2 separate regions of the Homo sapiens genome follow, and region 1 is linked to region 2. The links come from fine-mapping of genetic effects on gene expression. A gene starts in region 2. The other region holds a variant in brackets. All regions are shown on one strand. Distances are from middle to middle.

The links. PIP is the estimated chance that this variant, and not a neighbour inherited with it, causes the effect. A credible set is the group of variants that fine-mapping cannot tell apart.
Region 1: its variant is the best candidate, but not a certain one, in a credible set for the expression of BEAN1 in tibial artery (GTEx, PIP 0.74).

What each region holds. Positions count from the first base shown.
Region 1 is chr16:66,500,150-66,505,519 of GRCh38, reverse strand. No RefSeq gene overlaps it. Among named protein-coding and RNA genes, the nearest start is that of BEAN1-AS1, 26 kb to the right of the region's middle. The variant C/G (reference allele first, on the strand shown) is at 2,536.
Region 2 is chr16:66,424,103-66,429,472 of GRCh38, reverse strand. BEAN1 (brain expressed associated with NEDD4 1) reads right to left here and starts at 2,178. Exons shown (of 5, transcript NM_001178020.3): 1 at 2,042-2,178. RefSeq lists an enhancer at 750-1,350.

The sequences.
Region 1 (5,370 bases), 76 kb before region 2:
TGCGGTGGCTCACGCCTGTAATCCCAGCACTTTGGGAGGCCGAGGCAGGCGGATCACAAGGTCAGGAGATCGAAACCATCCTGGCTAACACGGTGAAACCCTGTCTCTACTAAAAATACAAAAAATTAGCTGGGCATGGTGGCGGGCGCCTGTAGTCCCAGCTACTCTGGAGGCTGAGGCAGGAAAATGGCGTGAACACAGGAGGCGGAGCTTGCAGTCAGCCGAGATCGTGCCACTGCACTCCAGCCTAGGTGACAGAGGGAGACTCCGTCTAGGGAAAAAAAAAAAAAAAAAAAAAAAAAAAAAATATATATATATATATATATAAAATCACAGACAAGATTTACCTGTTGATACTAAAATTAGTGGACAGAAGTTTGAGGAAAAACAAGATTTGCATAGTTTCTATTTCCCCTAATATACTTATCAAGTAAAAAGGGAAAGAAATTAACTAATTTGACAGTGGAGATGGAAACCCCATAGAAACCAGCTTAATAAGTGATTAAGGTAATAAGACGTAGTGACATCATGAAGCCTTTACAAAGATGCACTGAGGACAGCATCTTTTTTTTTTTTTTTTTTTTTTTTGAGACAGGGTCTCACTCTGTCACCCAGGCTGGAATGCAGTGGCGCAATCACAGCTCACTGCAGCCTCGACCTCCTGGGCTCAGGTGATCCTCCTCAGCTTCCCGGGGAGCTGGGACTACAGGTGTGTGCCACCAGGCTGGCTAATTTTTTTTTTTTTTTTTTTTTTTTTTTTTGAGACGGAGTCTCGCTCTGTCACCCAGGCTGGAGTGCAGTGGCGGGATCTCGGCTCACTGCAAGCTCCGCCTCCCGGGTTCACGCCATTCTCCTGCCTCAGCCTCCCAAGTAGCTGGGACTACAGGCGCCCGCCACTACGCCCGGCTAATTTTTTTGTATTTTTAGTAGAGACGGGGTTTCACCGTTTTAGCCGGGATGGTCTCGATCTCCTGACCTCGTGATCCGCCCGCCTCGGCCTCCCAAAGTGCTGGGATTACAGGCGTGAGCCACCGCGCCCGGCCATTTTTTGTATTTTTTGTAGAATAGGGCTTTTGTCATGTTGCCCAGGCTGGACTTGAACTCCTGAGCTCAAGTGATCTGCCTGCCTTGGCCTCTGAAAGTGCTGGGATTACAGTGTGAGCCATCATGCCTGGCAGCATCATTTGTTTTTTTGGTGTGGTATCCTTGCCAGAAATGCATACTTGACTCCAGTATTAAGAAAGCACCAGACAAACCCAAATGGAGGGACATTCAACAAAATAACTGATTGGAAAAAACTCTTTAAAAGCATCAAGATCGTGTTAGACAAGGAAAAAACAAGAACTATTACAGACTGGAGGAGACAAAGGAAAATATACAAATGCAATGTGGGATCCTGGATGGGCTCCTGGAATAGAGAAAGGATTTTAATAGAACACTAGGAAACTTAAATAATATGTGTAGTATCGTTAATAACATTGTATCAATATTAATTTCCTGTTCTTGATCATTATATTATGGTTACATAAGATGTCAACTTCAGTGCAATGTGGGATCCTGTATATGCTCCTGGAATAGAGAAAGGATATTAATGGAACACTGGGGAAACTTAAATAAGGTTTGTAGTATAGTTAAGAACATTGTATCAATATTAATTTCCTGTTCTTGATCATTATACTATGGTTACGTAAGATGTCAACTTTAGGAGAAGCAGGGCCAGGAGTGGAAAGGAGTTCTTTGTACTATTTTGCAACTTTTCTCTCCATCTAAAATTAGTTAGAATAACGCCCTTCATGGGAAATAAAGGCAGAGCACAACACTGTAAATATTACAATCCCAAATGTTTAATATATGCGTATATAGAAAAAAGACTGGGAGGAATTGCAGGAATGTGGTGACATTGGGTATCGCTGAATGGTGGAAATTATGGTAAGGTTTGCTTTCGTTTTCATATTCATCTGTACTTTCTAAGTTTTCTACTCATTTGATGGTTTAATATGGTGGATCCTTGGAAATAACGGTGAATGAGACAAGATGAAGTTTATCTCTCATGGAGCTTATCTTCTAATGGGGGGAAATGGAAAATGAATACATGAATTAAAATCTTTGTGCAGAAAATTAAGCTGATGTGATAGATGGTCAGAGGGGGCCTCTCTGAGAAGGTGACATTTAAGGGGAGATGTGAATAACAAGGAAGAGAACATGGCAGGGTAGGGTAGGGAGACAGAGCAGAGGGAACAGTCTGTGCAGAGGCTGGGAATAGGGCCAGGCTCAGCATGTTCCAGAACCTTGCAGAAGCCAGGGTGGCTCTGGCTACAGCGGACAATGGGGAAGGGACCTGAGATGAGTTCAGAGGGAAAGTGAGGGGCTGAGCCTGGGACTTGATATGGCCTCGGGCACCCCTGGAGGGAACTGAACACATGAGAATCATGATCAAATGTAGGTGGTTTTTTTTTGTTTTGTTTTGTTTTTTTTAACATTTTCTATTTTATTTTATTTTTTAAATATATAGAGACGGGGTCTTTCTGTGTTGCC[C/G]AGGCTGGTCCCAAACTCCTGGACTCAAGCAGTCCTCCCACCTCAGCTTTCCAAAGTGCTGGAATTACAGGCATGAGCCACCACGCACAGCCCTAATGTAGGTTTAACGGAATCCTCCAGCATTCGGGTGGAGCACAGGCTGCAGAAGGCTGGCAGCCTCCAGGGACGTGAGTGAGAGAGGATGGTGAATTTGGTTACTGTGGAAGGAGGGGGGAAGGGGTTGGATTCAGACTCTGTTGTGAAAGAGAGGAGCTAGGAATTGGATGAAGGATGTGATAGAGAGAGAGAGCGGGGGGAGGAGGAAAGAGAGAGGAGAGAGAGATATATGTTGGTCAAGGGTGATGTCTGCATTGGATTGGAGTGAGTGAGTGGATGGTGGACTCATTTACCCAGATGGGGAATGCGGGAGCGGCAGGCTTAGTGGAGAGAGCAAAAGTTCTGTTTTGGTTTGGAATAAGCATGCTTATTATGTTAATGGTCAGAAAAGAATGAATAAAAAAAAAATAATTAGCTCGCCTTTCCTGCCCCTGGAATCCTTGGCCTAAGTTGCTCTCCCAGGTTCCTTTGCTGCAGGTCAGGTGCCCTGGGGGATATGCCTTGGAGTGGCTGTCATGGTTCCAAGCTGACGCAACCTCTTGCCTCATCCTCCTGAGATTGCTGACCTGCTCTGCCTCCAGATCAGCCTGTTCTTTTTTTTTTCCATTTATTTATTTTAAGAGACAGGGTCTCACTCTGTCACCCAGGCTGGAGTGCAGTGGTGTAATCACGGCTCACTGCAGCCTTGAGCTCCTGGGCTCAATCAGTCCTCCCATCTCAGCCTCCTGAGTAGCTGGGACTACATGGCTGGCTAATTTTAATTTTTTTTTTAAATTATACTTTAAGTTTTAGGGTACATGTGCACAACGTGCAGGTTAGTTACATATGTATACATATGCCATCTTGGTGTCCTGCACCCATTAACTCGTCATTTAACATTAGGTATATCTCCCAATGCTATCCTTCCCCCGTCCCCCCACCCCACAACAGGCCCCAGTGTGTGATGTTCCCGTTCCTGTGTCCATGTGTTCTCATTGTTCAGTTCCCACCTATGAGTGAGAACATGTGGTGTTTGGTTTTTTGTCCTTGCGATAGTTTGCTGAGAATGATGGTTTCCGGCTTCATCCATGTCCCTACAAAGGACATGAACTCGTCATTTTTTATGGCTGCATAGTGTTCCATGGTGTGTATGTGCCACATTTTCTTAATCCAGTCTATCATTGTTGGACATTTGGCTTGGTTCCAAGTCTTTGCTATTGTGAATAATGCTGCAATAAACATACATGTGCATGTGTCTTTATAGCAGCATGATTTATAATCCTTTGGGTATATATCCAGTAATGGGATTGCTGGGTCAAATGGTATTTCTAGTTCTAGATCCCTGAGGAATCGCCACACTGACTACCACAGCGGTTGAACTTGTTTACAGTCCCACCAACAGTGTAAAAGTGTTCCTATTTCTCCACATCCTCTCCAGCACCTGTTGTTTCCTGACTTTTTAATGATCACCATTCTAACTGGTGTGAGATGGTATCTCATTGTGGTTTTGATTTGCATCTCTCTGATGGCCAGTGATGATGAGCATTTTTTTCATGTGTCTTTTGGCTGCATAAATGTCTTCTTTCGAGAAGTGTCTATTATATCCTTTGCCCACTTTTTGATGGGGTTGTTTGTTTTTTTTCTTGTAAATTTGTTTGAGTTCATTGTAGATTCTGGATATTAGCCCTTTGTCAGATAAGTAGATTGCAAAAATTTTCTCCCATTCTGTAGGTTGTCTGTTCACTCTGATGGTAGTTTCTTTTGCTGTGCAGAAGCTCTTTAGTTTAATGAGATCCCGTTTGTCAATTTTGGCTTTGGTTGCCATTGCTTTTGGTGTTTTAGACATGAAGTCCTTGCCCATGCCTATGTCCTGAATGGTATTGCCTAGGTTTTCTTCTAGTGTTTTTATGGTTTTAGGTCTAACATTTAAGTCTTTAATCCATCTTGAATTAATTTTTGTATAAGGTGTAAGGAAGGGATCCAGTTTCAGCTTTCTACATATGGCTAGCCAGTTTTCCCAGCACCATTTATTAAATAGGGAATCCTTTCCCCATTTCCTGTTTTTATCAGGTTTGTCAAAGATCAGATGGTTATAGATATGCGGCAATATTTCTGAGGGCTCTGCTCTGTTCCGTTGGTCTATATCTCTGTTTTGGTACCAGTACCATGCTGTTTTGGTTACTGTAGCCTTGTAGTATAGTTTGAAGTCAGGTAGCGTGATGCCTCCAGCTTTGTTCTTTTGGCTTAGGATTGACTTGGCAATGTGGGCTCTTTTTTGGTTCCATATGAACTTTAAAGTAGTTTTTTCCAATTCTGTGAAGAAAGTCATTGGTAGCTTGATGGGGATGGCATTGAATCTATAAATTACCTTGGGCAGTATGGCCATTTTCATGATATTGATTCTTCCTACCCATGAGCATGGAATGTTCTTCCATTTGTTTTATCCTCTTTTATTTCATTGAGCAGTGGTTTGTAGTTCTCCTTGAAGAAGTCCTTCACGTCCCTTGTAAGTTGGATTCCTAGGTATTTTATTCTCTTTGAAGCAATTGTGAATGGGAGTTCACTCATGATTTGGCTCTCTGTCTATTATTGGTGTATAAGAATGCTTGTGATTTTTGCACATTGATTTTGTATCCTGAGACTTTGCATCCTGAGACTTTGCTGAAGTTGCCTATCAGCCTAAGGAGATTTTGGGCTGAGACAATGGGGTTTTCTACAAATACAATCATGTCATCTGCAAACAGGAACAATTTGACTTCC
Region 2 (5,370 bases):
GCCCGCCCACCCGCTCCTTGCCACCTCCAGGATCCCAGCATCCTCCCCTATCCCCTGGGCCTATGCCCTGCTCTGCTCTGGGTCTAAGGTCCCAGCCACACAGACTGGAGCAAATCCCTTCCTGGGGACACCCTGCTCTGAAGTTTGAACCTCTCAATCACTGGCTCCATTTCCTCCCCGACATCCTTCATTTCTGGTGCCTCATGGCCCAGTTGCCTGGACGAATACATCATAGTCTGCGAAGAATCAAGGCTGGGACCCCTCAGACCTCTAGGCTGTCTCCCTGGTGCTTCTTGCTGCCTGTCTGAACCGTCACCATCGGTGTGTCCAAGCCACCTGACAGCCTGATGGCTCCTCAGGGAAAGCAATCCTCCACCCGGGAGTGGAGGGAGGTGTTAAATTCCCTTGTACGGAGCTCGAGCAATGGGTGGGTGCCCCTCTCTGGGGCAGCGGACATCAGCTAAGGGCAAGGAGGAAAAGGGTGCACCTTACAGTCAGATGCAGCCTTTTCACCCTGGAGAGAGATGGGAGGTAGCAGGGGAGAACTGGGCTGGGCGGTAGAGAGCCTTGGAGGAGGGAGCGTCTGAGAAAGGGTGGGCCCTAAGGAGAAAGTTTTGCTTTGCAATTAAATGTCAACAGCTTGGGGAATTCAAAGGCCTCCTTGGAGGGGGCTGGGAGCACCACTTCAGATTCAGAGGCACTGAATCTCAGCATCTACTGGTGCTGGACACCTCAGGACACCTGTAGCCCACCACAATTGGCCACTGGCTGCGTGCCAGGCACCAGGCTACATACCCTCACCAGCATCATCTCATTTAATCCTCCCAACTCACCTTCCCCATGTTCCAGATGGGGAAACTAAGGCTCAGAGAGGTTTGTGTCTTGCTTAAGGTTGTACAGCCAGGAAGTCAGCCAAGCCCACCTTCTGGTTCCAAATCCCTTAAACATCCCGCTCACAACAGACTCCTGCTTACTTTCAGATGAGGAAACTGAGGCACAGGGTGGTGAAGTCTCTCGTTCCAGCAGAGCAGTTATGTTTGAGGAGTGAGTCCAGAGCGGCATGCTCTCGGCAGGGGCTCATCGGAAATCGTGGCTCAAGAGCAAGGATCCCTGAACCCCTGCCTCTCACACCAGTTACTTGCGCCCTCCCTTTCCCAGCCTGCGCCCCGCCACCCACGCCGGCACCCGCCCGAGATGGACAGGGCAGTCCCTGGTCCTCACCGCTCTCCAGCCTCCAGACCGCAGAGCCCGATAGGGAAGGAGGAAGGGCAGCGAGAGTCAGCCGGGTGTGGGGTGGGCCCTGCCCCTGGGGAGCGGCGGCGGTGCCACTCAGCGCTGCGCAGCCAGCCTGAGCTGCCTGCCGCCTCGCCTCGTACTCAGCCTCGGGTCCCTCTGACAGCGCAAGGGAAAGTCTGTCCCAAAGTGGGAGAAGGTGCGGAGGGCGCGCTCTCTCTCCGACGCTCGGTGCTGAGACAGAGGCACGGAGACAGGGGCATACCCCAGGCGACCTGCTCGTCGAAGGGTCAAACTTCCTAGCTCAAAGGGGTGCGGGTGGGTTCAAACTCCAAACTCCGTGAAGCCCCAGCCCCTTTCCTCTCCCACCCCGACCGAGAGTGCGCCCTAGTTTTCCCTTCTTGGTTGGGTTGTTCAGGGGTCCCCGAAACCGAGGGCAAGCTGCTGGGGAGGCTGTCTTGGGTTCCCCAAATGCGGTTGATGCTCGTCGGGGACTCGAGTCAGGCAGAAAACCTGGATACCTCCCCTTCCCCGAGGCCCGAGGGCGCGATCAGGGTCAGCCTCGGCTCGCGCAGATCCCAGTGGCCAGCCCGGGGTCGAGGGTCCGCGGGAGACCCGGGATCCCGCTCCGTTCCGAGCGCGCTGCGGTTCCGTTCCGGACCGCGCATCCGCCCGCCCCGCGCACCGAGGCTCCGCGCGGCGCGCCCCCGGGTGTGTCGTTCGCCGGTACCACCGCAGAGCGCGGGGGAATGGGGCCGGGACCCCCCGCCCGCCCCTCCCCCGCGCCGCCCAGCCCCACGCCCCTTACTCGGCTTGGCTGCAGCGCTCCGCTCCGTGCGCCGCAGTGCCGGCTCCAGCTTCGGCTCCAGCTCCGGTTCCCGCCCCGGCTCCGGCTCCCAGTCCGGTTCCCGCTCGGAGGCCACTGCGCTCGGGCTCGGGCGTCGCGGGGGGCGCGCCGCTACGCTTCGGCCTGCTGGGCGCGCAGGGGCGGGGCGGGGCGGGCCAGGCGGGGCCAGGCGAGCCGGGCCGACCAGCCGCCCGCGATCCCGGGCCGAGGCAGCGGCGGCGGCGGCTTCCCAGGCCCCGGCCCTGGCCCTGGCCCTGCCCTGCCGCAGCCCCGCCCGGCCGCCCGTCGTCCCCGCGCCGCCGCCCACGCCACCGTCACCGGCCCCGGCCCCCCTCGGCGGCGGCGCGGCTCCCGGGCCTCAGCACCGCGGCGCCGCGGCCCGGGTCACTCCGAGATGCGGGGCGGGGGGCGCGGGTGCGGGGGAGGGCCGAGCCGCGCCCCTTTGCGCACAGCCAGCCCGACACCCACACAGCAGCAGGCGGGGCAGGGCGGCGAGGAGGCCGGGAAATGCGGGAGGCCGACGCTCCAGTCAGACGTGTGAAGAGGACACACAGGCGTGTGTAGGGAATGACACACGGACGCGAGCGGGGAGCCACTGACACGTGCAGAGAAGGGTAGACAAACGAGGTGTCAGGGAAGGACAGCCAGACAGGTTGGACCGAGGCTAGGCTGGGCATTTGAGCAGGGGACCCCTGTCGCGGGCAAAGAGCAAAGTGCGGGATGGAGAGGGGGACCCAGCGTGGCTGGGCCGCTGGCAGGGGCAGGCGAGCCTGGCAGGGCTTCCCGCTCGCGGTTGCTGGCAGGTGAGTTTTGGGATTCCAGCTAGGCCTGGCCCAAACCTTCCTTCGGAGCCACCAGCAGGCCTGTTTCCTTCACCCCGTCACCCTCCCTGTGCCCCCGTTCCCCGCTGCCCAAACGTCAGGGCATAGGGCTCAGCCCTGGCAGGTGGAAGCCGGCCCCGAGGGGATGCCTGGCTCAGGCCGGGGTTCCAGGCTTCCAGGACCTGCTCTGTCCCCACCCTGCTTTGGGGCCTTGGACGAATCCCAGCCCATCTCTCAGGCCTCCCTGTCCTCATTAGGATATTGCTCCCAATGATTGCACCCCTACTGTGTTGGGGTGCTCGCCAGCGTGGAGGAGTTATTTATTTAACCTCCGCCACTTGCCTGGGAGCGCCAGGAGGGCAGCGTCTGGGTAGGGCTGCAGGGGTCTGCACAGAGTGGGCACTCAGTGAATTTGCTGCAGGAATTGATGAAATGTGTTGTTGCTAACACTCTCTGAACCACTACTGTTGATGAGGAAACTGGGGCTTAGGAGGCAAGGGGAGTCAAAAGCTGGGTTCGTTTCAAAACCCAAAGGCTTGTCACTGGCGGGAAAGTGGTTCTCAAAAATAAAGCATGGTGACAAAGGGCTGAACATGTTGATGCTAAACCTTGGGGAAGCAGTGAAGCCATGGGGATGTTGTGGAAGGGAAAGTTGGCCAGGGACTGGCCTTGCAGGGAGGATGGGGCAGAGCAGGCTCCGGTGGAGAAAACAAACCCCAGCCCTGCCAGTCATCACGTCTTGGGCTTCCCTGGGGCCAGGCAGGGGAAGCTGCGTGGTCTAGGGCTTGGGTGCTTGAGGACATCTCCCAGCCTCCTCTGGTAACTGTTCATTCTGGGCTCTGCTCCCTGCACTATTTACCGCCCCCCCCCCGCCCCCACTCCCCGCCCTCCTGCAGGCTGGGGCTGTCACGGGGACATCAGCTCTGAGTAAGGGATGAGGCTAGAATAAAGGGAAACAATTCTCAGAGAACCGAGGAAGGGGACCTGAGAGACCCTTTGTCCAACCTCATGCATTTATTTTATGAATGAATAAATGAAGGATCAGAGAAAGGAGGGGATAGGCTAGGGTCAAAGAGGTAGGATTGGAGGCTCTACAACTCCCAAGCTAGGGCTGTGCCCACGGTATAACCTTGATCTCTCTGAGGACACCTGCTGACCCTTCCAGGATGGATATTCTAGTTGTTGAGTGGTTTTGCCTGTAAGCTGCCCCCTTTGGCAAGACTCTGTGTGTTTGTGTGTGTGTGTGTTGTGGTGGGGGTGGGGGGACCAGGGATAAGTGTGTGTGGCACACTTTGAGTGAGTCCTTGCGGAAGGTCCTAGCCCTAAAGAGTTAATTCCCGTCCACTCCCCTATTTGTGCATCACTGGCCTGGCAAATCTGGCTTGCTCCTCAGACTGGAACCAGGACTGTTTTCCAGTGGTGTTGGGTGTAGTTTCAGGGAGCTGGCTTATGACGGCGTGCCTACCAATCTCTGTGTGTCTATGTATCCATCCACAAATATATATTAGTGTAGGGCACTTGGAAAATACAAAAGGAAAAAGAAGAAAAGAAAATCCAGTCATTGTGAATATTGAGCTTTCCTGTTTTCCTTTCTTTTTACCTGTGTAACTCTACAAGAGTCCTTAAATGGAGTGAGCTTGCTGACTGATATCTCCTCTCCTATGTCACACTTTTAGTGGCTACCTAGCATAGGATCAGATGGTTGTATTGCACATATTTTTTTAACCAGTCCCCTATTTCTGAGCATTTAGTTTGTTTCCATTTTTCATACTTCTAAACAACACTGCAACGGACATCTTCATGGGGAGGCTTGTGCATGCCCATGACTATCCTTTATGTCTCTAGGTATGTCATAGTTTTGAGGCTTTCTTCGTGTAGGGTCAGATTTGCAGAAGGGGCATCTACTGGGTACCAGGGAGGCACAGTGGTGTTTAGTGTTTGCTTGGCCTAGGGATAGGTAGGGATGCTGGAGGGAAGAGTCTGAGGGAAATCAGGAAGTGAGATCTCAGGACAGTGAGATGCCCAAAGAGTCCCCAAGTGCTGGGCTTTGGGGCTTGCCCTAGAGTGTGCTTCATGTCACCCCAGCCGCTCACAGGGAATCCCAAAAAACGTCTTTTCTGTTTGCAAAGAACAGGATCCATGATGTCATTCATCCCAAACAGAGCCCATGGCATGGAGATGTTGGAAGGGTCTCTTGGGCCTGATCAGCTTGTACCTCCCTACCATCCTTCCTTCTTTGAAATGTCTTTGCTTTACCCCCTTACAAATTACCCAGTCTCATATATTCCTTTATAGCAATGTAAGAACGGCTTAACACAGCCAGGCTGCCCCTTCTGTCTTCCTTTAGGAGGGAAACCTCTCTTCTAGGACCCTGGACTAGGTCTCCAGGAGCTGAAGTATAAAAGACAGCCTCTCCTCTCCTATCTCCAGCGGCCTTTCTGGGGAAACTTATTTCTGGGGCTTCTTGAA